Regions from separate parts of the Homo sapiens genome. Here region 2 is linked to region 1. Evidence: fine-mapped expression QTL. Tissue or cell type: lung. Region 1 holds a variant in brackets; the other region holds the start of a gene. All regions are shown on one strand. Distances are from middle to middle.

The links. PIP is the estimated chance that this variant, and not a neighbour inherited with it, causes the effect.
Region 2: DSP starts here. The variant in region 1 is fine-mapped to the expression of DSP in lung (GTEx, PIP above 0.99).

The regions. Positions count from the first base shown.
Region 1 is chr6:7,560,811-7,566,034 of GRCh38, forward strand. It overlaps DSP (desmoplakin), which reads left to right. Exons shown (of 24, transcript NM_004415.4): 5 at 1,842-1,970; 6 at 2,926-2,976; 7 at 4,549-4,710. Among named protein-coding and RNA genes, the nearest start is that of DSP-AS1, 20 kb to the left of the region's middle. RefSeq lists an enhancer at 117-1,692. The variant T/G (reference allele first, on the strand shown) is at 2,189.
Region 2 is chr6:7,539,500-7,544,723 of GRCh38, forward strand. It overlaps DSP (desmoplakin), which reads left to right and starts at 2,172. Exons shown (of 24, transcript NM_004415.4): 1 at 2,172-2,586. The coding sequence starts at 2,417. DSP-AS1 (DSP antisense RNA 1) reads right to left here and starts at 3,584. Exons shown (of 2, transcript NR_183331.1): 1 at 3,547-3,584; 2 at 952-1,554. RefSeq lists an enhancer at 1-160.

The DNA of each region.
Region 1 (5,224 bases):
AGTATGACAGTTATAAAAAAAGACAGCCTGTAATTTGTCATTTTTTTGTATTTATGTTGGGTGTAGCTTAAGAATGTAGTAAATGCTCAATGTCTTTAAATTTTGGAAAAGTATTACCACATGAATTCAGTTTTATGTCATTTTCTTTTTTTTTTTTTTGAGAGGGAGTCTCACTCTGTTGCCCAGGCAGGAGTGCAGTGGCATGATCTCGTCTCACTGCAACCTCTATCTCCCGGGTTCAAGCAATTCTCCTGCTTCAGCCTGCCGAGTATCTGGGACTACAGGCGTGTGCCACCATGGCAAGCTGATTTTTTGCATTTTTAGTAGAGACGGGGGTTTTGCCATATTGGTCAGGCTGATCTCGAACTCCTGACCTTGTGATCCGCCCGCCTTGGCCTCCCAAAGTATTGGGTTTACAGGTGTGAGCCACCACGCCCAGCCAGTTTTATGTCGTTTTCTAACAGAAGCAATTGATAAGCGATGCTTTCCGGGTTAGGCACGCAGCCCTCATGGTTGCAAACAAACTAAAAGCTGTTTGATTGCTTACTGCAGGTTCGCTCTGGGATTTGCTGTGGCTCCTTTCCTCTTATCGCTTGTTCCCCTGCATGCTTTACCTCATTCCCAGGAGACTGAGCTGCAGGGCCCAGCTGATAAGGGAACTGTTGCCCCAGCAGCCAGTCAGGAGGCAGGCACTCCTGAGCCAGGTTTTTGTTTTGTTTTCCCGATTTGTGTTTGCCGATGGACAGGTCAGATACGATACACCTGGCTGGTAATGAGACGCCTGAGCTGGAGCCTGGTCACGTTGCTAATGTCCCACTGCACGCACCTGGCTGTCTCTGGTTTAAAGCCGAGACAGCTGTGGGAGAGAAGGGTCAAAGTCCCGGGTAACCTTCTGTTGTCTGACTCTGAAATGGCTCCCCTTTCTGAAGCCTTGCCAAGTGTATTAGAACATGGATGTGGCTTAGAACAATGTGTTTTATGTTCTTGCTGCAATCCCAGATTGGAATGTTTGCCCTTGGCATGTCCAAGAGATGACACAGGTGATTTGGAAATTTACATGTACTCATGCAAAAGAAGGGTGAGATAATGGACTTGCCCCAGTGTGGAACTGGCGGAACAGTGTGTGTGATTCTTATTGTGAAACATTCTTAAATTTGAGGCTCAAATAATAAATTTAGTCAGATTTAATTTTTTAAAAAAGGTAACTTAAGTCCACAATCCTAATATTGCCAACACTCATGGAAATTGAATCCTTGAGTAGATATAGTGACTTCCCTTTGAAGTGGCCCATAGGGAGTTTTGCATCCTAAAAGGGAATGGTATATCCTGGATTTTAAAAAGCCAATAATTACATCCATCAAGACAATATAAAGAAATAAACAATGAAAGATGCTTTTAGGTTGACTATTTAGTTTGGGGAACAGTGTATGATTGCATTTATTTAATGATTTTTTTATGCACATTTAAGAATGATTAAATGAGTATTTTATAACATATCATACATATATATGCACACATATGTTCTGTGCACATGCTTGCTTGCCTGTGCACAGGTAGATTTGGTTTTTTTTTTTTTTCAGAAGACATGATCTTGGTTTTCAGGTTCCCATTTCTAAATTTCCTTCTCTGCCCATCTTGAGCTGGGGTCAAGCAAGTTGAGGGAAGTATTTGGCAACCCTGCATTAGCCATTTGGGAACCTTTAAAAAATATTCTGGCTTCAAAAATACTCCATATTTACATCTTTGGTTCTATCTGAAGTAAAGCCGTGATGGTGTGCGTAAGTGAAACAGGTGCAAAGGGGCAACAACAAAGGGCGCCTCTCTTTGTCTTTGTGTCGCAGGCGGAGATGGACATGGTGGCCTGGGGTGTGGACCTGGCCTCAGTGGAGCAGCACATTAACAGCCACCGGGGCATCCACAACTCCATCGGCGACTATCGCTGGCAGCTGGACAAAATCAAAGCCGACCTGGTACTTGTCTGTGTTTCATTTTAGAGTCTTCAAAATATCTACCGAAGGATCGTGTAATTACTCAATCCCAGGGAGTTTCTTCTGAAACATTGCTATTATTTCTTTCCCAGAAGACTGGAAATGTTTAGAAATCCCACTTCTTAAATGGGGAAGTGGAATCAGTAGCCCTATTAGAGATTATGTTAACACTTGAAGAGGAGTTAAACCAGAGGCTGAGG[T/G]TGTGCAAACACTCATTTGCAGTTTGTGAATAAGTCTCTTTAGGGGTGGCAGTTTGTTTCTGCGGTAAGCAGAACATCTTTTTGAATAGGGGAAATGCAACAGTCTTATACAGTAGTTTGTGTCATTGGTGAATCCTTTCCTAGGTGGTAATTAAAACATTATTTCTACTGAGCAAAGCCATATGTCATCCCGACACCCGCTCCCATGCTGAAAAAAGTCAGACTTGAAACTGGGTTGAGAATTACAGCATAAAATCATAACTGATCTTAAGTGCTTAGTTTCCCGCAGGTCTCTACACTTGTAAATCACTAAACTTTTTTTTTTTTTTTTTACCTGAGACCATAGCTTCTCATCCTCATTTCTTCTTCTGGCTTTTTGGGGCTTACTTTTGTCCACCTGAGCCCCTGACCAACTTTCTCCTTCATTTCTCTAAGACCTAGGGAATCCTAAATGATGTCTTTAAACTTTAAGACAATTTTCTAACACGTGAGTCTTTAAGTGACCCTGATCTGGGCTTTCCTTTGTGGAGACGGTGCTGCCAGGCCAGCAAGGGTTTGCTTTCCAACCGCCTAGGAAAAAGTCCCCATGGGTGAAATATCTCATAGAGCTAGTAATTCTTTCTTTCTATGGAGGGATCTGAGGCCAGTATCTGAAGAAAAGGAGGCTTAGAAGGGCCACTCTTTTCTATACAATCCACAAGGGGATTTATATCTACCTGCTTTTTGTTGTCTTCTAGCGCGAGAAATCTGCGATCTACCAGTTGGAGGAGGAGTATGAAAACCTGCTGGTAAGCTGATTTATTTCTCAAGTGCATCGACTTTCTGTTGTTTCCAATTCAATTCAGTTCAAGAAATATCAAGCACATCCTGGCGGGGAGGCACCTGTTCATCGATGCTAATGTTGTTGCTGCTGCTGAGTTTCCTTTAGAAGTGAATTTTAAAAGTTGTTTTCTTTTCTTTTTTTCTTTTAAGTAGAGACAGGGTTTCACCATGTTCACCATGTTAACCAGGGTGGTCTCAAACTCCTGACCTCAAGTGATCCGCCCGCCTTGGCCTTCCAAAGTGCTGGGATTACAGGCGTGAGCCACTGCGCCCGGCCTAAAAGTTGTTTTCAGAAGTCAGTCCCTACTGCTGTTCTGTTTTCAAGTTGTGTCACATAAATGGCACTTGTTAAGTACTTGCAGTTGAAGCAAGAAAACGTTGCCACTTGTGAATTGTGGTCTTTTTTACGAAGTGTAAGCAAAAATAAAAGTTATTTTTCTCAAGATAGAGGTCTACCAGATCGTCATCACAATTTTATGACACTCAGTCATATCAGTTACTTGATTCATAAGAGGAGAGATTTCCATTCTTTTGCCTATTTGTGTCATCATATCTTTACTTTTTAATGTTTCCTTGTTGGCAATGATACTTTTTAAATAATGTCACTCGTGGTGACACAGTGATTTTCCTATTGGGCTGGGGTGTGACTTATGGCACTTTGAATTTTTGGGGAGAAGGTAGGAAAAGCTTGATTTCTCTAACAGTCCATTTTCCCCCTTATAGTCCAAAACTAATTATTGATGGGTACAAAAATACAGTTAGATAGAAGGAGTAAGTTCTAATATTTGATAGTACAATAGGGATATTATAGTTAATGATAATTTATTGTATATTTCAAAATAGCTTGAAGAAAATATTTGTAATGTTCCCAACACACAGAAAAGATAAATGTTCGAGGTGATGGATATCCCACTTATCCTGATTTGATCATTATACATTGTATACATGTGTCCAGATATCATGTGTACCCCCAAATATGTACAACTATATCAGTAAAAAATACCAAAAAAAGACCTTATTTAGAAGAATAAAAAAAATTTAAGGCCAGGTGTGGTGGCTCACGCCCATAATTCCAGCACTTTGGGGGGCCGAGGTGGGCGGATCATCTGAGGTTGGGAGTTCGAGACCAGCCTGGCCAACTGGTGAAACCCCGTCTCTACTAAAAATACAAAAATTAGCAGGACGTGGTGGTGCATGTCTGTAATCCCACCTACTCGGGAAGCTGAGGCAGGAGAATCGCTTAAACCCGGGAGGGGGAGGTTGCAGTGAACCGAGATCGCTCATGCCACTGCACTCCAGCCTGGGAGACGAGAGCGACAGTCCGTCTCAAAAAAAAAAAAGTTGCTGCCTTCTTGTTCATTGCAGATTTGGATGGGTCTTTTCCCATACCAGGTGGTCAGTGAATGCACAAGGTTAACATTTTTCCTATCCGTGTGATTTTTTTTTTAAAGGGACCACAGGTTTAATCTTTAAACCTGCAGAGAACACCAGTCACTGCATATTGTTATTTTAATGCTGCCTTTGAACCTCCTGTGCAGAAAGCGTCCTTTGAGAGGATGGATCACCTGCGACAGCTGCAGAACATCATTCAGGCCACGTCCAGGGAGATCATGTGGATCAATGACTGCGAGGAGGAGGAGCTGCTGTACGACTGGAGCGACAAGAACACCAACATCGCTCAGAAACAGGAGGCCTTCTCCGTAAGTTCACCCCACGCGGCTGTAGATGCTTGTCTTGAGCCTGTTGCCTTGAAGAGCTGGGGTCTCGGGGAATGATTGGTCTATTAATAATTTAATCAGCCACTTGCAATTCAGCCTTCTTTGAAATGGTCGTGAAAAATCCTTCCTTCCTGAAAACTTCTCCGTGTGGAGGCCATTATCCTTAGCAAACTTATGCGGGAACAGAAAACCAAATACCACATGTTCTCACTTAGGAGTGGGAACTAAATGATGAGAATACATGGATACATCGAGGGCAACAACACACACTGGGGCCTTTCGGAGGGCAGAGGGTGGAGGTGGAAGGAGGGAGAGGATCAGGCAAGATAACTAATGGGTACTAGGCTTAATCGTGGGTGATGAAATAACCTGTACAACAAATCCCTGTGATACAAGTTTACCTGTGTAACAAACCTGCACATGTATCCCTGAACTTAAAATAAAAGTTAAAAAGAAAAAGAGGGGCAATACCTTGTTTAATATCCCAGAAGACCGT
Region 2 (5,224 bases), 21 kb before region 1:
TATTTATCTTTGTATGTTGCAGAGTATTTCCATATCCTAGGTTATAATTATTTGCTGAACAAATGAGATGCATAGAGGGAAAACATCCTAAATGAAATGTTGTACATTATGCACTGACATTTTCCCTCCATGCATGTCTTTCTCTCCTCCACCAATGGATATTATGGGCTGTTTGTGCAGAGGCTGACTTCCAGCCATTGATTCTGTTTGAGAAAAACCACCGTCTTGTCTATAGATCAGTGTTTGTACAGGTTGAGCATCCCTAATCTGAAAATCTGAAATCCAAAATGCTCCCAAATCCAAACTTTCTGAGCACTGACATGATGACCACAAGTGGCGAATTCCACACCTGACCTCATGTGATGACTTGCAGTCAAAGTGCAGTCAAAACTTTGTTTCATGCACAAAATTATCTAAAATATTGTATAAAATTACCTTCAGGCCATGTGTATAAGGCATATAGAAAACATAAATAAATTTCATGTTTAGGCTTGAGTTCCATCCCCAAAGATCTCTCGTTACGTCTATGCAACTATTGCAAAATCCAAGAAAATCCAGAATCCAAAATATTTCTGGTCCCAAGCATTTTGGATAAGGGGTACTCAATCTGTATAATCATTTAAACACTTGACCACTTTGGTTTTATTAAAGATTCGAGGAAATTGAGACTACGATGCAAATTATTGGTTGTGCTAACAGTGATAAACTTTTATCTCATTATATGTGTTTACTCCTTGAATTTAAGACGTTCAGCTGTAAAAAGAAAAAGAACAAGACATTTTGTCAAAAATTATGCCTAAAGGGTCAAGTTGTCATGAGAAGTGCTATAATACGACAAATTTTAGAAAGTCCCCCCCACTCCCTTTACAACATAAAAATGTAGTTTTTTATTTTTGTTTTCAGTTCATAAACATTTTGGAAACGCACTGTATCAGAAGGTAATTAGCGGCATTGTTTGGAAAGATGAAAAATTTATTAGAAAAGATCTTTAAATGGCTTTTACTAAAGCGTCATTTAACAATTTTTCATATTATAGAAACAGCTTTTCATGGATGGTGTGACTGGGTCTGTATCCAAACCCGGTTCGGTTCCTGGAGCCAACGGCGTAGTTAACACTCAGCCTCTTGCAGTTAACACTCAGCCTCTTAACTGGGAGTGGCCCTGGAGCAAGTCGCTGGAATGTTCAAGCTCCGCGTCACTCATCGGTACCAAGTTGATGATCTCTGCCTAGGGTTCTTCGCCACCCTCAGGCTCAAGTCCCAGGAGGCCTCCTCCGCTGACTTGGGTGAACAGCTCTGAGTTCCGGAGAGGGTTCGGTCTGCGGAGAAGCGCGCGAGAGACAAGCATCCTCAAGGTTCTGGTACAAAATTTGGAAAATGGACCTGGCGTTGAAATCTTTACTCCTCGTTTAAAAAGACCATCGAAAGGGAAAAAATAAAAGAAATTGCAGTTTATATTTTTGTTATCCCATGAAAAATTAGCTGCAGTGTTTTCCTCTTCATGCCAAAGAGATTAATATTTACGGTGAAGACTTTTCCAGGAAGTCGTGGTTTTCTGTAAAAAAAGGTTTTACACATCAGAAATCGGACTTCTGGGGCAATTTCCTGAATTCCTGGAATAAAACAAAACAAAAAAAAGCCCCCAAACAAAACTCTATCATCTAAAGCGTTCCCTCCTCACTGTGGTCCTAGTCAATGCGTGGTAGGTAGCGTTTCCAGTGATCAACAAAAGTAAATATTTGACCAGTAAGTCTCCAATCGAGAGGCCCCTCCATTCCAGCTATTTCCGCCCGGGGACCGAGGAAATCCTCAAAAGCCGGGCCACGCATTCCCAGCCCGAGAGGCCCCAGCGCAGAGCGCAGCAGCCCCCGCGAGCGCAGGTCCTCCCCGCGGTGGCTTCGCCCAGGGCGCTTGGGTCTCGGGGACCCCGCCCCCGCCCCGCCCGGTGTTACTCAGGCCTCGGTGGCGCAGGGCGGAGTCGCGGGCGGCGGGCGCAGGTGGGGAGGGGCGGCCGGAGCGCGTCGGTGACACCCGCGGGGGGGCGGGGAAGGCGCGGCGGCCGCACCCCACCCTGGGAAGAAACCGGCCAGGTGTGGCCTAGGCGCCCAGTGCCAGCGGGGAGGAGACTCGCTCCGCCGCCGACCAACACCAACACCCAGCTCCGACGCAGCTCCTCTGCGCCCTTGCCGCCCTCCGAGCCACAGCTTTCCTCCCGCTCCTGCCCCCGGCCCGTCGCCGTCTCCGCGCTCGCAGCGGCCTCGGGAGGGCCCAGGTAGCGAGCAGCGACCTCGCGAGCCTTCCGCACTCCCGCCCGGTTCCCCGGCCGTCCGCCTATCCTTGGCCCCCTCCGCTTTCTCCGCGCCGGCCCGCCTCGCTTATGCCTCGGCGCTGAGCCGCTCTCCCGATTGCCCGCCGACATGAGCTGCAACGGAGGCTCCCACCCGCGGATCAACACTCTGGGCCGCATGATCCGCGCCGAGTCTGGCCCGGACCTGCGCTACGAGGTGACCAGCGGCGGCGGGGGCACCAGCAGGATGTACTATTCTCGGCGCGGCGTGATCACCGACCAGAACTCGGACGGCTACTGGTGGGTACCTGCCCGGAGAGCGCGGGCTGCGGGGCTCGCGGGACAGGGAGGGACCGTCCTCCTCTGGACGACTGGGAGACTCGGGTCCCGAAGGTGGAAAGGTTTTTTTGCCCCAGGTCCCGAAAGAACTTCCCGGCCGCGCTGGGAGCAGGACCGGGTGTCCTGACGCGTGCGGGGACAGGTTGGCCCCTGTCCTGCGAACAGGGACTCGGTCGTACCTTTCTCCCCTCCCGCGAGCCCGGGCGGGTGGTCAGAGGGGGCGTCGGGCCCGCGCGGGGCTGTCCCCTGCCTGCTGGACACGGCTGCAGCCGCCTTTGTCCCAGCCCGCGAATGGGAGGTCAGGCGAGGTGGGGCTGCGACCACAAAACCCAACCTCTCCAACCGTAATCAAAGTAAAAGAGGAAAGGAGCGGGGCCCCGGTCCTGTCTGGTGGCCGAGTGGTGCTCGGGGCTCCGCAGTCTCTACCGGCTCACCCCCAATCCCCAGTAACCCCGAGACCACGACTGCAACGACTCCTGGACTCCTCGGCCACCCAAGGACGTTTGTATCAAGGCTGCGCGTCCCGGCGGCGCGGGGTCCTGTCCCGAGGAGGCGCTTCGGCTTCCCCTGTCCGGGAAACGAAACTTCCCCGCCGGGGCGGCTGCCGGGCCCGGGTCTCGAAGTTCGGCCGGGACGTGCCTGTTACCTTCGGTCGTCCGCGCCGCAGCCCCCGCGGGCGAGCGCACCTGGGGCCCTGCCTCTGAGCCTTTTGTTTCCTCCTTTTTAAAAACACCGGATGAAAGACCCCAGTGTGCCTTGGATCGCAGAGCGCCGGCCGCATGTCTGCTTTGATCCAGAATGTGTGGGCAGGGGAGTGGGGGGGTGGGAGAGGACGACGCTGGGGGCCCGCCCTGGCCTAGGCGCCCCGGGAAGACCCCCCGGTGAGAGGGTCAGCTTCTCCGGATCCCAGCGGAAACAGACCGAGGGCGTCATTTGGGTGGGTGGGGAAGAGATCCTGTCCCTGCTTTGACCGGGTCTCGGGAGCTGGACTCTAGATGCCCACGTGAGCCGTGCGCGTTTTGCAGCCCGCCCCACCTCCCCGCCCCCTGCTAGTTGTTCCCACGTCGGGCTTTTGGGAAAGAGGCCCTGAGCGCCGGGACGTTATTTACCAGGCGTTGTGGCCCTAGGCCTGGGAGGAGCAACCTGAATGCGCTCCAGGGAGTTTTGTTTTGCAAGCAGTTTTGAAGGCAGGGACTACTCGAGTTGCAACCTGTTTTCTGCTTAGATTCATTTATTTATTTATGGGGCATCCTGAAAATCTATTTTCGCTTTTTTTTTTTTTTTTTTTTTTGAGTTAGCAAAGAATTGTCTCAATCTTGGAGTTCTTTGTTTCCTGAACAAAATGTGTCTGGGGATTTCCAGGGAAAATGTGCCAAGCAATAGAAGGAATGAAAACTTGGGTTTTCATTACATTTGTTTTAAAATTTTGCCAGCCATTTAAATCTGAAATTTAAATTTTCTCCCGCAGTCCTCCAGGATTTGAGATGCACATCCTTTAAATGTGTGGGTTACACACAGTTTAAATCCAAGTCAGAATAGAATGCGAAGGACTCTTTAGTAGCTCTTTTTGGCGTTTTCATGAACCAAGTATTTATTTTGATTATTATTTATAACTATGCTTTTGCTAGCTTGGATTTCTTATCTTTTAAATAGACAATAATCAGTACTATTAATCGAATATTTCACTCCCTTGGCTTCTTATACCTTTTGTAGGGGAGTAAAACTTTAATAAATTAAGTGGTTAATGAACTGCATCAAGGTACATGTTTTATTAGGATTCCCCATTGAAACATTTAATTTTGGGCAGGCTCCATGTTTTTTCCTTGTGTAGTATCATCCCGTGCTCTGTTTTTCCAACTTAAAGCCTACTTACAAACTTGTCAAGTCTCACATCTCTCTGGGAAGGGGAAAGAGACCCAAGTGAAAAATTACCTGACTTTGAGGAAGGATGTTTTTTCTTCTCATTAATGTTGCTCTGCCCGGCAGCAGGGCGTCAAGCTCAGGGCTTGAGTCGGGAGGCGGTCATTCTTTCCGGGGATCCTGGCAATGGAGGTTCCTCTCGAGCCTGACCCAGCCTGCAGTGGTGCTACTGACTACAAAATAGCCCACAAATGCTGACTTCTGCGTTTTCAAATAATAGCGACCGCCTGAAGGCAGGGCATGTCGCAGTTTTTCTGGTGGCATTCTGGTTTTGTGTGGAGGGATATGTTTGGCTGTGGCGTGCACTTTGTAGAAGCAGGGTGCCCTCTGTGCCCAAGGGAGCCACTGCTCTCTGCTAAGTGAATGATGATTAAGAATTTCATAAGTATTTTTCTGACCCGAAGGTTTTCTAAATAAAGGTTTTTGTGGTTTTCTTTTCTTTCTTTCTTTTTTTTTTTTTAGCATGAAAACTAGTATAAAAACTATTGGTTGACTTTAAACTCATTTATTTCAAAAACTGCTACTTTATGGCTGAATTATTAATAGATTGGTGATTTTTGAGATGAGTGTTTTGTATCTAGCCCTTCCCTGAATAAAGAAATTTGAATGTGTGGAGGGCCCAACTCTTAGTTTTCCTTTGAAAATGACTTTAAAACATCTCTCTCTCTCTCTGTCCTTT